Linked DNA regions of Homo sapiens. The protein of the gene in region 1 interacts with the protein of each later gene in a biochemical or structural test. Each region holds a gene or a part of one and is shown on either strand. Other genes may lie near its edges.

The links.
Region 2: the proteins of GABARAPL1 (region 1) and STK3 form a complex in vitro, tested with the Homo sapiens proteins (2 studies listed by BioGRID and IntAct).

What each region holds. Positions count from the first base shown.
Region 1 is NC_000012.12:10,208,475-10,215,879, reverse strand, and holds the start of GABARAPL1 (gamma-aminobutyric acid receptor-associated protein-like 1), read right to left. Parts: upstream 3,004-7,405; 5' UTR 2,751-3,003; coding exon 2,661-2,750; intron 2,232-2,660; exon of another isoform or gene 1,918-2,231; intron 1,827-1,917; exon of another isoform or gene 1,511-1,826; intron 1,239-1,510; exon of another isoform or gene 813-1,238; intron 1-812. UniProt on the Homo sapiens protein: Ubiquitin-like modifier that increases cell-surface expression of kappa-type opioid receptor through facilitating anterograde intracellular trafficking of the receptor. Involved in formation of autophagosomal vacuoles.
Region 2 is NC_000008.11:98,542,664-98,549,688, reverse strand, and holds part of STK3 (serine/threonine-protein kinase 3), read left to right. Parts: intron 1-1,527; coding exon 1,528-1,720; intron 1,721-7,025. UniProt on the Homo sapiens protein: Stress-activated, pro-apoptotic kinase which, following caspase-cleavage, enters the nucleus and induces chromatin condensation followed by internucleosomal DNA fragmentation.

The sequences.
Region 1 (7,405 bases):
ACAAAACAAAAAGTTGTTTTGTGTTCTTGTAGAAAAAATCCTGAACCAGGAAGACCAGAGGGACATGATCACATTTTAAATTTAAAAATAAAAACTGAAATAGGGTAACGTAAGCCAGGAATTAAAAGGAAAAGGCAGAAAGAGGCTAGCATTGTGCCCCAAAGGAACTCGGACACCTAGCAGTAAGAGATAAAAACCACAAAGGAAGACAGATAAAGAAAGTGATAAAGCAGAGGGCAATACCTGGAGGGAAGGGAGGGGTTTGGAGAGGAAGAGAAGGGGGAGGGGTAATCATTAAAATATTGGTTTCCCAGTACCAAGGTTAAGTTTCCAGGAATCCCAGCTCTACTCCTCACTATGGTAGACCCCTGGGCTAGATGCTTTGCCTCTTTGGGTCTCAGTTTTCCTCATTTGTAAAATGTGACTAATACTCAGTAGGGTTATGAATTTTTAAAATAGACAATCTGTTCCTAACAGTTTTTTTGATATGTTGTATCTTTGAAGATAATTTCAAGATCCCACCAACCCTTCCTCTCTGAAGGCACAAGCACACCTCTTCTTTTCAACGCTGGCTCTGAAGAAATATTGGTGGGGCTAAGTTCTGGTTATGCGAGCAGTCAGGGTACGCCATTGCTTTAATAACACCAATGGTCAAGCTGGAATGGGCTTCAGGAATCATTACTCTAACCCTCTTTTCTGTAAACAAGACACTCTAGCACAGCACGATTAAGAGTTCTGCCCAAGGATGCAATGAATTCCCAGAACTAGAACCAAATCAAGGAACCTGCGTCATAACTAGAAAGAAGGTCACAGACTGGTCACCTTGGGAGCAGCTCACCACTGGTTAAAACATAACCCTAGGAAAGCTGAAATCTGAGTGACAGGCTTAATGGCTTAAAAATTATCACAGGAGTAAAACATTTAACACCAAACTATGAGCAGGAAAAGAACAGAATGCTCTAAAATATTCAGAGTGAATGCACATAAATATTTATCTATTTCCAATACTTAACAGTGTAAAGTCCACAGCACGTCATTAATTCTGGTTAATACAACTATATTAGAAACTGAGAAACAATATGGCATGGAGGTTAAGATACCCGAGAGCTCCACAGTCCTTCAGACAGGGTTGGAATTCCAGCTCAACCACAGATCAGCAATGTGAAACCTTTAGGAAGTTACTGCATTTCTTTGTGCTTTGAATACTCCATCTGTAGAACGGGTAATCGTGTAAGGAAGTAAGTCAATGATTACAGACTGAGTACTTATAATACCGCTAGGGTAAACTATCAATAAAACTTGATTGTATTTTTTAAATATCATTGCTCAAAAGATTGGTATCACCAGAACTGGGCAAAATTTTCAGGTATCCAAGGTCCAGAAACCAGGAAAGTAATTTGTAAAGGATCCTTTCCCGAGTAAGGGATTAGCTCACCCCTCTATAAGCTGAAAACCTTTTTGTAATTCCTGGGGAATGAAGAGCCCTAATGACTTTTTTTTCTTTTTAAAGGAAAAGGGTTACAAGAGGTTTCTACTGCTGGGCTAAGGCCCTGGTGGCTTCTGGTAGCTATAAAACCACGAACGTTAGGTAAGGATTAGAGAAGAAACCCAGAGTGGCTGTGAGTCAAGAAAAGACATCAGATAACAGCAATTATTTTACCATTATGTGACACGTAATACTAATGTTCCTACCTGAAGATAAAGAGCACAATTTTAAAATCTCCGCTCCTCCATTTCCAAAATCCAACAGCTGCTGGTCCCCCTACCACTTAAGCCATATTCTGCCCTCCAATTCGGCTGCGCAGCCTGCATTAGAGAAACACCAGGCAAGTGGGCGGGGGAGGGGGTAATGGGGAAAACGCCCGGATGCTGAAAGATACCTAATACTTTTCTGTTCCTACTCACTGCCTGCGGTAGTTTTAACTACTTAAGCCGGTGTCCAAAACGGAGAAAAAACGTCTCAGTCCTGCCTTATCGCGACCAGGTACCAGGTGATCAGAAATCAACACGAGGAGGCTGGCTGTCCCCACACAAGCCCCGGAGCCTAGAACGATGAGGCAAGAGGGCTGTTGGGCAGAGAACGTGACCTTGTTTTCCAGGCCAGGACTGTCTTGTGCTCCCCTAACCCCCTGTAATGCAAGAAAATTACTGAATAGCTTCTGAACCTTTTCGTCCCAAGACCAATGATATGAGAGCCAAAGTCAACTTCATTAAAGGAGAACCAGCCAAGGCAGAAATCGACTGGGTTTGCGCAAACCTCACCGCACAGCACAATGTCCCTGCGTTCTTAAAGGCAGCCAATCCATGGCCCCGATCTAACCAGTCTCGCCCACAGGGGCCCTATTTTGTGCACCGCAACCCACACACGGTCTCAGCTGCTGAGACCGTGTGTGGGTTGCTGAGTCACTGAAGACGGCGGCTCGGCCCCCAAAACGCCGTCAGCCCTGAAGTGGGGTTCGGGGCCCAGGCATACGGGGTTTTAAAAGCTCTACAGTCTGGACGTCCATTGGCTCTGGCACTGAAGGGCGTTCAGGATTAAGTAATTCTCGGAACCTCCCTTCTCCAGAGCCGCCTGGGCGCCCCAGGGAAGCCATCTCGACTACCCGCCCCCGCCCCCGCGGGCCCTTCCCCTCCCATCCCCTCCGCTCCTCTACACTCACGGGGACCCTGTCCGGATATTTCTTCCGGATCTTTTCTCCTTCCTTTTTCCGATACTCAAAGGGATGGTCCTCCTTGTACTGGAACTTCATGATGCACCGCAGGGCTTCCGAGATCCCCGCGCGGGGCCTGCCTCCTTCGCCGCTGACCCTGTCCCGCTCCCTCAGCCGACGTCAAGGTGTGCTCAGAATAGCTGCAGAAACGTCCGCTCCGGGGGCAACAGCGCTGGGCCGAGTGTGCAGGGGGGGTTCGGGGCGGGGATCTCGGGTGAGCCTGCCTGGAGGTAGAGGAGAGCCAGATGGAGAAATACCGGCGGCTTTTCGCTAGAGCTGGGAGCACAAAAACAGCTGGGTGGCGCGTCGGGCTGTGACGTCACCCCGCGAGCCCCGCCCCGCCCCCCATGCGCCAGGCGCCCAGGGCAGGGGGTGGCCGAGCGCTCTGTCTCACTGCGTTTCCTTTCTGGCTAACCTTTTTCACAATCGATGTCACTGCAAACATCAAAACATTCGAGTTATGTTTTATTTTGTGACTGTGAAATTAAAGATGGTTTTAAGACAAAAAAAAGATTTAAACATGTTTTATTCCCCCTCCACTGTTTTTCTTGGTTGGGCCCCAAAACAAATACAAAAGGCGAAAATCCAGCCTTTTCCTGCTGGTTGGGATCCAGCCTCAGGAGAAAAGAGGGCCAGGCCTCCTGGGATCCCTTTGGCCAATGCAGAGCTGTCCCGTGCTTGCACCGTGCCCTCTGCGCGTTCCGCTGCCCCTCCCGCGGCCCTCCTCCCGCGCTGGCGTCACAGTGTTTGGGCGGTGCCGCAGTTCGCTCCTGAACAGCAACATAAACAGAGCGTGACTCAGGAATCTGAAGAGAGGAGTCAGATGAAGGACACGGAGTGTAATCAAAGTCTAAAGGAGACATGATGTCAGTAAGGACTACCGAGGGCTTCACGTACAATCAAATATAGAAATGATTCACTTTCTAGCCGGGCGCGGTGGCTCACGCCTGTAATCCCAGGAGGCCGAGGCGGGCGGATCACCTGAGGTCAGGAGTTCGAGACCAGCCTGACCAACATGGAGAAACCCTGTCTCTACTAAAAATACAAAATTAGCTGGGCGTGGTGGCGCATGGCTGTAATCCCAGCTACTCTGGAGGCTGAGGCAGGAGAACCGCTCTAACCCGGGAGGCGGAGGTTGCGGCGAGCGGAGATCACGGCGTCGCACTCCAGCCTGGGCAACAAGAGCGAAACACCGTCTTACAGAAAAAGAAAGGAAGGGAGGGAGGGAGGGATTCACTTTCTGCCATAAACTCAGAAAGGGGGCTCGTCTTCTGGAAAAGAGAGTATCAAGCAATTTAGGTGATGACCTCAGTTGTTCCCCCACATCTTATTTAGTTCCAGTGGTTAGGTATCCCTCACGTGACTAGAAAGCGCTGCCTGGAATGCTAGTAGAAGATTGGGCATTAGGGCAGGTGAGGCGAAGCCTCGTTCTGGATTTCCCCACCTAGAGTCAAAGAAGAAAGACCTTCCAACCAGTACTGTAGGGCAGCGACAGGGAGGACTGTGGAGTTTGCAAAGAAAAAGAACAGTGAAAAGGGGCTGCGTTGCCCATACAAGTCGGGTGAGTTCTGATAAATATTAGATAACAGCAGCCCCGTGGCCTATCTTCTTCAGTCGGGGTCTCAGTGTCTCTAATTTTAAAAACACCCACAGGGGGCCAGGCGCGGTGGCTCACGTCTGTTCTCCCAGCACTTTGGGAGGCCCAGGCCGAGGATCGCTTGAGCTCAGGAGTTCAAGACCAGCCTGGGTAACATGGCAAAACCCTGTCTCTACAGAAAAAACAAAAATTAACAAGGCATGGTGGCGCGCTCCTACAGTCTCAGCTACTGTGGAGGCTAAGGCAGGAGAATCGCTTGAATCCGGGAGGCAGTGGCTGCAGTGAGCTGAGATCGCCCACTGTACTCCAGCCTGGGAGAGAGAGCAAGACTCTGTCTCAAAAAGAATAAATAAATAAAAATAGGCCGGGCGCGTTGGCTCATGCTTGTAATCCCAGCACTTTGGGAGGCCAAGGTGGGTGGATCACGAGGTCAAGAGATAGAGACCATCCTGGCCAACATGAGACGAGTGAAACCCCGTCTCTACTAATAATACAGAAAAAATTAGCTGAGCCTGGTGGCGCTCGCCTGTAGTCCCCAGCTACTCGAGAGCCTGAGGCAGGAGAATCACTTGAACCCGGAAGGGAGAACCCGGGAGGGTTTAACTATATTTGCATCAAAACTAAAATGAGGCCGGGCGCAGTGGCTCACGACTGTAATCCCAGCACTTTGGGAGGCGGAGGTGGGTGGATCACGAGGTCAGGAGATCGAGACCATCCTGGCTAGCACGTGAAACCCCGCCTCTACTAAAAATACAAAAAAATTAGCCGGGCGTGGTAGCGGGAGCTTGCAGTGAGCCAAGATCGTGTCACTGCATTCCAGCCTGGGCGACAGAGCTAGACTCTGTCTAAAAAAAAAAAAAAAAACCTAACATGAGCGACTGAAAATTAAACTGTTTTCAATTTGAAAGTAAGACTTAAAATTATAAACATATAATGTGATAAAATAACTCATGGATTTTATTTATTTTATTTATTTATTTGATATGGAGTTTCTCTCTTGTCGCCCAGGCTGGAGTGCAATGGCTCCATCTAGGCTCTCTGCAACCTCTGCCTCCTGGATTCAAGCAATTTTCTCCGGCCTCGTCCTCCTGAGTAGCTGGGATTACAAGGCGCCCGCCACCGCGCCCAGCTAATTTTTTTGTATTTTTAGTAGAGACGAGGTTTTGCCATGCTGCCAGGCTGGTCTCGAACTCCTGACCTCAGGTGATTCGCCCGTCTCGGCCTCCCAAAGTGCTAGGGTTACAGGTACTAGCCACCGCGCCCTGCCCTCATGAATTTTTATACATAAAGATTGAAAGATGCCATGAAGAAAAATACATGAAGAAGTGGGACTATGTGATTCGTTTTCTGGTGCCAGTAATGAAACTTAGTTTCTTTAATTTTGTGGGTGAGTTTTGTATTTATTTTTATTTATTTATTTATTTTTGAGACAGAATCTCACTCTTTCGCCAGGCTGGAGTGTAGGGGCGCAATCTCGGCTGACTAAAACCTCCTCCTCCCGGATTCAAGGGATTCTCCTGCCTCAGCCTCCCGAATAGCTGGGACTATGGGCGCCTGCCACCGCTCCCGGCTAATTTTTGTATTTTTAGTAGAGACGGGGTTTCACCATGTTGGCCAGGATGGTCTCGAACTCCTGACCTCAAGTGATCCACCTTCCTCGGCCTCCCAAAGTGCTGGGATTACAGATGTAATCCGGCCTATGAAAGTAAATTTTAAATTAACACAATCGAGTAAAACATTTCAAAATGTCTTATTTAACCAAAATCAAAATACTACATTAAAAAGCTCACATTTTCTCAAATACATTTTTGATGTTTCTTGTACTTTTTAAAATGATTTCAAGGGTTAGAAGTTTTTTCAATCTTTTATGAATATTTTCAAACATGTAGAGAATTTTGACAAATAGTATGATGAACACCACTATAACCTTCACCTAGATTTTTTCCGTTTGAAAGTAAATTAGAGGACGGGCGCGGTGGCTCACGCCTGTAATCCCAGCATTTTGGGAGCCTGAGGCGGGTGGATCACGAGGTCAAGAGATCGAGACCATCCTAGCTAACACTGTGAAACCCCGTCTCTACTAAAAATACAAAAAATTAGCCGGGTGTGGTGGCGCGCACCTATAGTCCCAGCTACTTAGGAGGCTGAGGCAGGAGAATCGCTTGAACCCGGGAGGCGGAGGTTGCATTGAGTAGAGGTCATGCCACTGCACTCCAGCCTGGGTGACAGAGCGAGACTCCGTCTCAAAAAAAAAAGTAAATTAGAAACATGACACCATCCCAATATACAAATTATATCCCCCCTGAGAATAAGAACATGTTCCTCCATAACCACAATAGTTATTACACCTTAAAAACTACTAATATTTTCCAACATTATCTAATATAGAGCTTATATTTATATTTTCTCAATTGCCCCAAACATACTTTTTTTTCTCCCCCACTCAAGCATTTGAATCTGAAAACAGGTGGAATTTACCATAAAGATAGGTCTGATTTCTTCGATTTAGGGTCTCTCTCTCTCTCTCTTTGTGTGTGTGTGTGTGTGTGTGTGTGTGTGTGTGTGTGTGTGTGTGTAGATGGCGTTTCACTGTTGTTGCCCTTCAGCTAATTGCAACCTCCACCTCCCAGGTTCAAGCGATTCTCCTGCCTCAGCCTCCCAAGTAGCTAGGATTACAGACATGTGCCACCACACCAGCTAATTTTGTATTTTTAGTAGACACGAGGTTTCGCCATGTTGGTCAGGCTGGTCTCGAACCCCTGACCTCAGGTGATCCGCCTGCCTCGGCCTCCCAAAGTGCTGGGATTCCAGGTGTGCGCCACTGCACCTGGCCCAGGGTCTCTTATATTATCACATTTAAATTGATAGATGAAACCAGAATTTTAGTGCATTGGTCTCCAATGACAAATACAATAGCTAGAGGTTTAGTTATTCAGCCATTTTCTAAATTTGCTTGCTAAGCTTGGAATTTAAACAAGGGATTTTATTACTTAATTTGAATTTTTAAATAAGCTGCCATCCACAGATCAAGTGTCAAATACCACCACGATGTGCCTGGCTGACTCCAAGACTAGGAAAATATTTCCTGCCCCTGAAC
Region 2 (7,025 bases), on another chromosome or scaffold:
TAAAGAGCACTTTTAATTTGTACTTTTATTACTGACTTGATTCTTCTGTGAAACATTTAAAAGCTGAGATTTGTCAACAAAAGCAAAAAATTGATAAATCAGACTTCATCAAAATTAAAAACTTACATCAAAAGACGCTATAAATGAAGTAAAAAGCACACAGAATGGGAGAAAATATTTGCAAATTATATCTCTGGTAAGGAATTAATATCCAGAATTTGTAATAACAACAGAAAAACCAAACAACCCATTTTAAAATGGGTAAATGGATATTTCTCCAAAGAAGATATACAAATGGCTAATAAGCGTGCGAAAAGATTGCTCAACATCAGTAGTCATTAGGGAGATGCAGATCAAACTACAATGTGATAACACTTCATGTTCATTAGGATGGCTATTATTTTTTAAAAATGGAAAATAACAAGTGTTGCCAAGGATGTGGAGAAGTTGGAATCCTGTGCATTGCTGGTGGGAGTGTAAAATGGTATAGCCACTGTGGAAAACAGTTTGGGCACTTAAAAAATTAAATATGAAGTTACCATGTGATCCAGCAATTGTACTTCTAGGTAGATACCCAACCAAACTGAAAATAGGGATTCAAACAGATACTTGTAGGTCAGTGTTCACATTAGCACTATTCACAGTAGCCAAAGGTGTCAACAATCCAAATGGCCATCAACAGATAAATAGGGAAACAAAATGTGGTGTATTCATACAATGGAATATCATTCAGCCTTAAAAAGGAATGAAATTTTTCTACCACAATATGCATGAATCTTGAATGCATTAGGCTCAGCAAAATATATTGTATGATTCCACTTACATGAGGTATCTAGAATAGGCAAATTCATAAGTATAATAGTAATTATGAATTAGTACTATGGTATGAATAGTAGTACTCATGAATTTGCCTATTCTAGATACCTCTTGTAAGTACAATAGAGGTTGCCAGGGCTGGGGAAAGGGGGAATGAAGAGTTCTGTAAACATATAATGGTGGTGGTTGCACAACATTGTAAATATACTTAGTGCTACAGAGTTATACACTTAAAAATTGCTAAAATGGTGAATTTTATATATATGTATTTGTATATTTTGCCATAATTTAAAAGAAAAAGCTAATGGCTGTTTTACAAGGTTATAGACATCATTATGCCCATTATAATACAAAGTGTCAATGTGTTCTGTCTTAAAGGTGCTCTCATATATATTTAGTTGTTTTGTCACCATATTCTTTGTTATGCATTTGCTGATAGTTTACCTATCTTAATCCTTATTTTAAAAGCAACTAGCAGCCTTCTACTTCATCAGTTTCTGTTGCTTGATCTGTAATTACCTAAAGCTTTAGGTTATTTTGAATAATTTTCACTCTTAAAATAACATTTGTATGTATGTATTTATATTAAAATCAGTACTAATAGTATTTTTAATAAGTATTAAAACTATAATATATTCATTCTCTTGTTAAGAATTAAGAAATCCAGCTGTCATAGAAAAGTCTTCCCTCATTGCAGTATTTTGCTTGCAGGATGAAGATGAGCTGGATTCCCACACCATGGTGAAGACTAGTGTGGAGAGTGTGGGCACCATGCGGGCCACAAGCACGATGAGTGAAGGGGCCCAGACCATGATTGAACATAATAGCACGATGTTGGAATCCGACTTGGGGACCATGGTGATAAACAGTGAGGATGAGGAAGAAGAAGATGGAACTATGAAAAGTATGTGGCTTTTTTACATTAAATATTAGTTTTCTAATTCGAAAGGATACTTTTATAGGAACCAGGCTAGTTCTGTGTTACTTTTTATAGCCAACTGTGGAAAATTTTGTTTCTTAGATTTATGTAACAGTAAAAAAGAGTATGGCACAAGTCACCTTTTTAAAATTGTATTTTAATATAGCAGAAAACAACACATCTTCAACTTAGAGTTATGGAACTTTTTTCTGTTGAAGGTTGCTAACCCACGGCTTAATTTGCAAAGTATTTTAGAGAGAAAAAGATAGTGTTCCTAACATTTACTTTCCCAATTAAAAAAGTGAACCTAAAATTATCTTCCAGTAAATTCAACAGACTATTATTTTATGTTGTCCAAATTATCAGTTAAACCACAAAGAGCAGTGCGAGCTATGGGAAGAAATAAGGTGGGAAAATAAGAAGCACTAGAAAGAAGGATTAAGAGACAGGGATGCTCATACAGAAGATTCAGTTGCATGAATATTTACTGCTGCTTATCATATGTGAGGCACAGTGCTGGGGGTGCTGCAGTGGCTAAAATGATGATCAAACATTCTCTCTGACCTCTGTTGCTTACAAAGTGATGACAATAGGAATGCTTTCACAGACTAGCACTTCTCTTTTTTAAAAACAGTTTTTTAAGATACTGCAGTTAACATCGTAGGTCATTGTGATTTCACAGTTATAGGCAAAAATGAATTTTCTCTTAGCACCAACTGACCTTTTTCTTCCTGTCATGCTCCTACCCTAGTCCTGTGTGGTTAGTGTCAAAGTCTAAGCAAGCACTAGGCTGCTTTCCACTGAAGAGTATTGCCTCTCCATGGCAGAACAGCAGAATTACATGACTTCTAGCATTGTAGAACCTAGAAAATTGTAAATATTCAAGTGATTTGCTGGTACTGCAAAATGGATACCAGAATTTTCTCTCAGATACTTCCATTTCCTTTTTGCCCACCCTTTTCTTTTTGCTACTCCGCCATGAGGTCTGACCCATAACTTCAAGTCACGTGGCTCAGTACTGCTGCTTTCTTCACATTCCCTAGTTCTGTGTAGCCCACTATGGTTGCATATGTACTTTGGATAGAGAGGATCATGAAGCACAAAATGTAATAGATTGCTATATTGCCATAATCCTGGGGGTGGAGTATGAATTTTCTATCTCCTGCCATTGGTGGGTCTTCTGTGCCTTTTTCCTGGAAAGCAGCCTACATCTTGGATTTCCTGAAATTCCTAGCTGGGCATCTGACTAGAGTAAGTTTTCTGCATCCATAACGTGCCTCACTCCACTGCAGAGGATGGTCTTATGGCCTCCAGAACCAGCTAGTGTTGGGGTACAAGTGGATCACAAAGACTCTGTGGTAAAACAGTTAACACATTTTTCATCAACATGTAATATCAATTTTCCATAAGCTGATATAATTTTTAACTCAAATTTTATGATTCTTAACAGATCAATTAGATCATTGAGTGCTTTTTTGTGTCTTTAGGGAGTTACTGAGCTCCTTATGAAACTATATGAACAACTTTTCATGCAGTCATATAGTTGAACATCAGCATATATATAATAGTTAAGAAAAATGAGTCTTTATAGAATCTAATTCATTTAGATTGCAGTGTATTATATTTCAAGGAAGAGAGACTAATGATGATGTTTCCGACATCATACTTTATACCACAGATTTCTGACATTTTGTATAGTGACTTTTAGATTTGACATCCACAAAAATCAATACATGTTATAATTTTGTTATAACTGATTGTATAGGTATGACTTTTTGTCACAGAGATTTTAGTGAAAACCAATTTTGAAGTTGAACAGATAAGTGGTTTTTATAGCTGCAGTTGTTTTATGGACCTCAGCAAATTTTAAATCCCATGAGCCAACTTTCTGTGTTTTTTGTTTTTACAAGTTAGACATCATTCTGTAATGTGAGACTTCAGTGTTTCCAAAATTCTAATCAAGTGATGTTAGTATAACCCCTAGGGATTGTCATATTGTAGTATAGCAGTAGTAAAGTATGTGAAGAAGTTATTGAGGGAAGACTTACTTTTTCTGAAACCATATAATTATTGTAGTTTTGTTTTTCTCGTGATCTAAATCTTTAAAACTTCTTAAATTAGTTGGTATGAGGTCTCAGCTTATGTCACATCAGTCAAAGCCACATTTGCTAATGTGTCTTTAGCATTTTTGTTCCCTAATAAGATGATAGCAGTATATTATTTTTGGTTTTCTAAAATCTCTACAATGTGTACTGAAGATTTAGAATTTCATCTCTTTTTCCATTGGAGTTTCAAGTGAGTTGCCTGATTTAACATCCTTGTCAGTTTAAATTATGTTTACACTTACTCTTTTATACCTTTAACCATGAAGCTAGAAATTATGGGCCTATTTTCCTTACCTCTAGAAAGGAAAATTACCCACAGACCCTTTGAAGGGAAGTGGAGAAAAATGACAAAAAGTATTTTAAAATTTGATCTGCCTTTTAAAAAATGGACGTGGACCCTATGGGCATGTCCCAAGAATAACTTTCTAAACCTGTTTTTAGCAATGATGGCATTACTTTTACCCTCCCGCTCCCAGTCTTCCTATTCAGATATCCCTAAGGCCTCCTCATTCCCCATGGAATGTCCAGGCTTCAGCTGTGTCACCAAGATCCTTCACAGTCTGGCACTAGCCATTATTTACATGTGGATCTCTACTTCTTCCTTATGGATTATGTTTTATCCATACTAGTCTGTGCCAGTTGGAATTCTGAATGCTTGACACTGGGTAAAAGCAGGTTGGTTGTCATTCAAGAAAATCAATTTAGGATTTATTATCCTGGAGTAGATTAGGACCAGGTCAAGAATCTATGTCATCAAACTGATGGGGTAGGAGAGATTATTTCATCATGGGTGACTCTGGGAGAGTAGTAGCTTCAGCAAAGAAAGACTGGGGCTTTTTAGTTTGTTCAGCTCAGATCTACTCAGTTAGCTCTGTTTTTATGGAGGAACTTTCTGATCTTACAGAGCTGTGGCTAGATTGGTAGCACTAGTTGCCCTGGAGGGAAACTATGTCTTATGGGTATCTGAGGAAGAGCCATATTTTCCAGCCAGGTTTTTATTTTTCATGTGTGTATCTGTTGTTTCTCCAGATAAGTCACGAAGTTTGTCCTGGTAAGAATGCTGTATAAATCTCCTCTGCCACATAATAGTACATGCTCTTGGAATATTGGTTTCATGAATGAATACTAATTACAGTAGAGTCAGAGTCAAGCTGTGTGTGTGTGTGTGTGTGTGTGTGTGTGTGTGTGTGTGTGTGTGTTATAGTAGAATTAAAGATACATAGCTCTGGAAGCTAAGAGAACTTTCAGGTAAACCTCCTGCCTTGGTAAGATACTTTCTTTTCAAGTGTTCTACCATCCCTGCTTCTCATTTCACAGAGCAGACCCTCTGAAAATGTGTTCCTTAAGATACCCATTCAGTGAAATTCTCTGATAAATATAGATAAATAATATACAGTAATCAGAATTATTTGGGAAATGCATATTTATCCTAGAGATAAATTATTAGAGAACTACAGTATATATTATTAACTTATTAAATACAAATAGTACAGGAAGGAAACAGTTTAAAAATTACATTACCCAAACTTTCCTTCACTTATTTGACCATGAAAAGCTTTTAATGAGGAACGTATCAGTGATTAACATCCTGTGTAATAAGCATCTGAGAAACACATTTTGGGAAATGCTATCATGAGAGCCCTCTAGTTCCCTGACCCTAGTTCCTAGTCTGCTTTCTTTTTATTAGCACACCCTCCCTTCACTTCTATATCCAGCTTAGAGGCTATATTTCATTATTTCGTTGCTTCTGCCACTCTCGTATGTTCTAAACTCCTCTTAGAGGCTATATTTCATTATTTCATTGCTTCTGCCACTCTCTTATGTTCTAAACTCCTCTTAGAGGCTATATTTCATTGCTTCTGCCACTCTCTTATATTCTAAACTCCACTGCCCTAATGTCTTGTCTTTTCTGCCTCTCCTGGAAAACTTTGATATGGTCCAGTCTCAGTGTTCATCTTCTCTGCATCTTTACCCTGGCTATTGAGTGCTGCTGGAGATAATCTTCCATCTGCACAGATGAGGGCTGCCAGATCAAGACCTTCTCCCCCATTTGGGCCCTCAACTTTCCTGGAGGCCTGTGTTTCTCTGTTCAGCAATTCCTCATTCTACAGAGTGGCTAGTTTAGATCTTCACTAGATCTCTTCTTCCTGCCTCCCATCTCAGTTTCAGTAGATGACGTTGCTCCCTACTTTACAGAAAAAAAGTGAAATGTTATCATGCAAGTACCTAGAGAAGCTGTATAGGTGTTTTAAATGTGGTCTTTGGAATAAGGTTGAAAAATTGAGTCATTCTTAATTTCCGTTTCTTCCTTCACCCTTCATGGAAGTAACATCTCATCAGTTCTGCCCCCTAAATATCCCTATTCTCTTCTCATGATCTCTGCTTGCATTTCTTTAGTGCAAGTCCTCATAGTTTCTCACTTGTGAGGCTTCTAAACTGATCCTCTGCCTCCAATCTTCATTCCCTCCCCACCATACAGATTTCAGCACATTTCTCTTCTGCTTATGCCCTCCCAGTGACTACCAATTGCTTATAGGCTAAAGCTCAACACCAGTTAAGAAGCAGTATATGCTCTGGTTCCTACTTACCTTTCTATTCCCTCTTCATCCTTCTTCCAGCTTCTCAGCTCTTACAGAGCTTTTTTACCTTTGGCCACTTGCAATGCCTAAATCCTCCTGTGGGATTTATGCTTCTTTTGCTAAATCATATTCATTCACTCAGGCTCAGTTAAGAGGTTGCTTCCTCTATCAACCCCAGGTTAGGAATAAGTGCCCCTCTAATAGGCTCCCATCTCACCCCAAGCTTTCACTCTTACAGCACTGTCATGCTTTATTGTGAGCGTGTGCTTTTGTTTATTTCCCACTGTATTTTTGATACCTAATACAATACCTAGCACTTGGTAAGAGTTCATGAAATGTTTTCTGAACAAATGATGTGGTATAGTGAAGAGCATGGGATGTGAAGCCAAATCATTTAGTAATTGTGTTGCTTAATTCTGTCTGAGTTTCAGTGATAAATATTTGTCTCTCTGTTGTGTGTATATGTGCAGGTGTGTGTATTAGGTAAATTCAAAACATGCCTAGCAGTGTTTTAAATATAGTTGATAATCAATAAAGGATAATATTCATCTGTCCACCCTATTAATTTATCCTTCCAACAACTTGATAAGAGGGAGCATCCGGGAA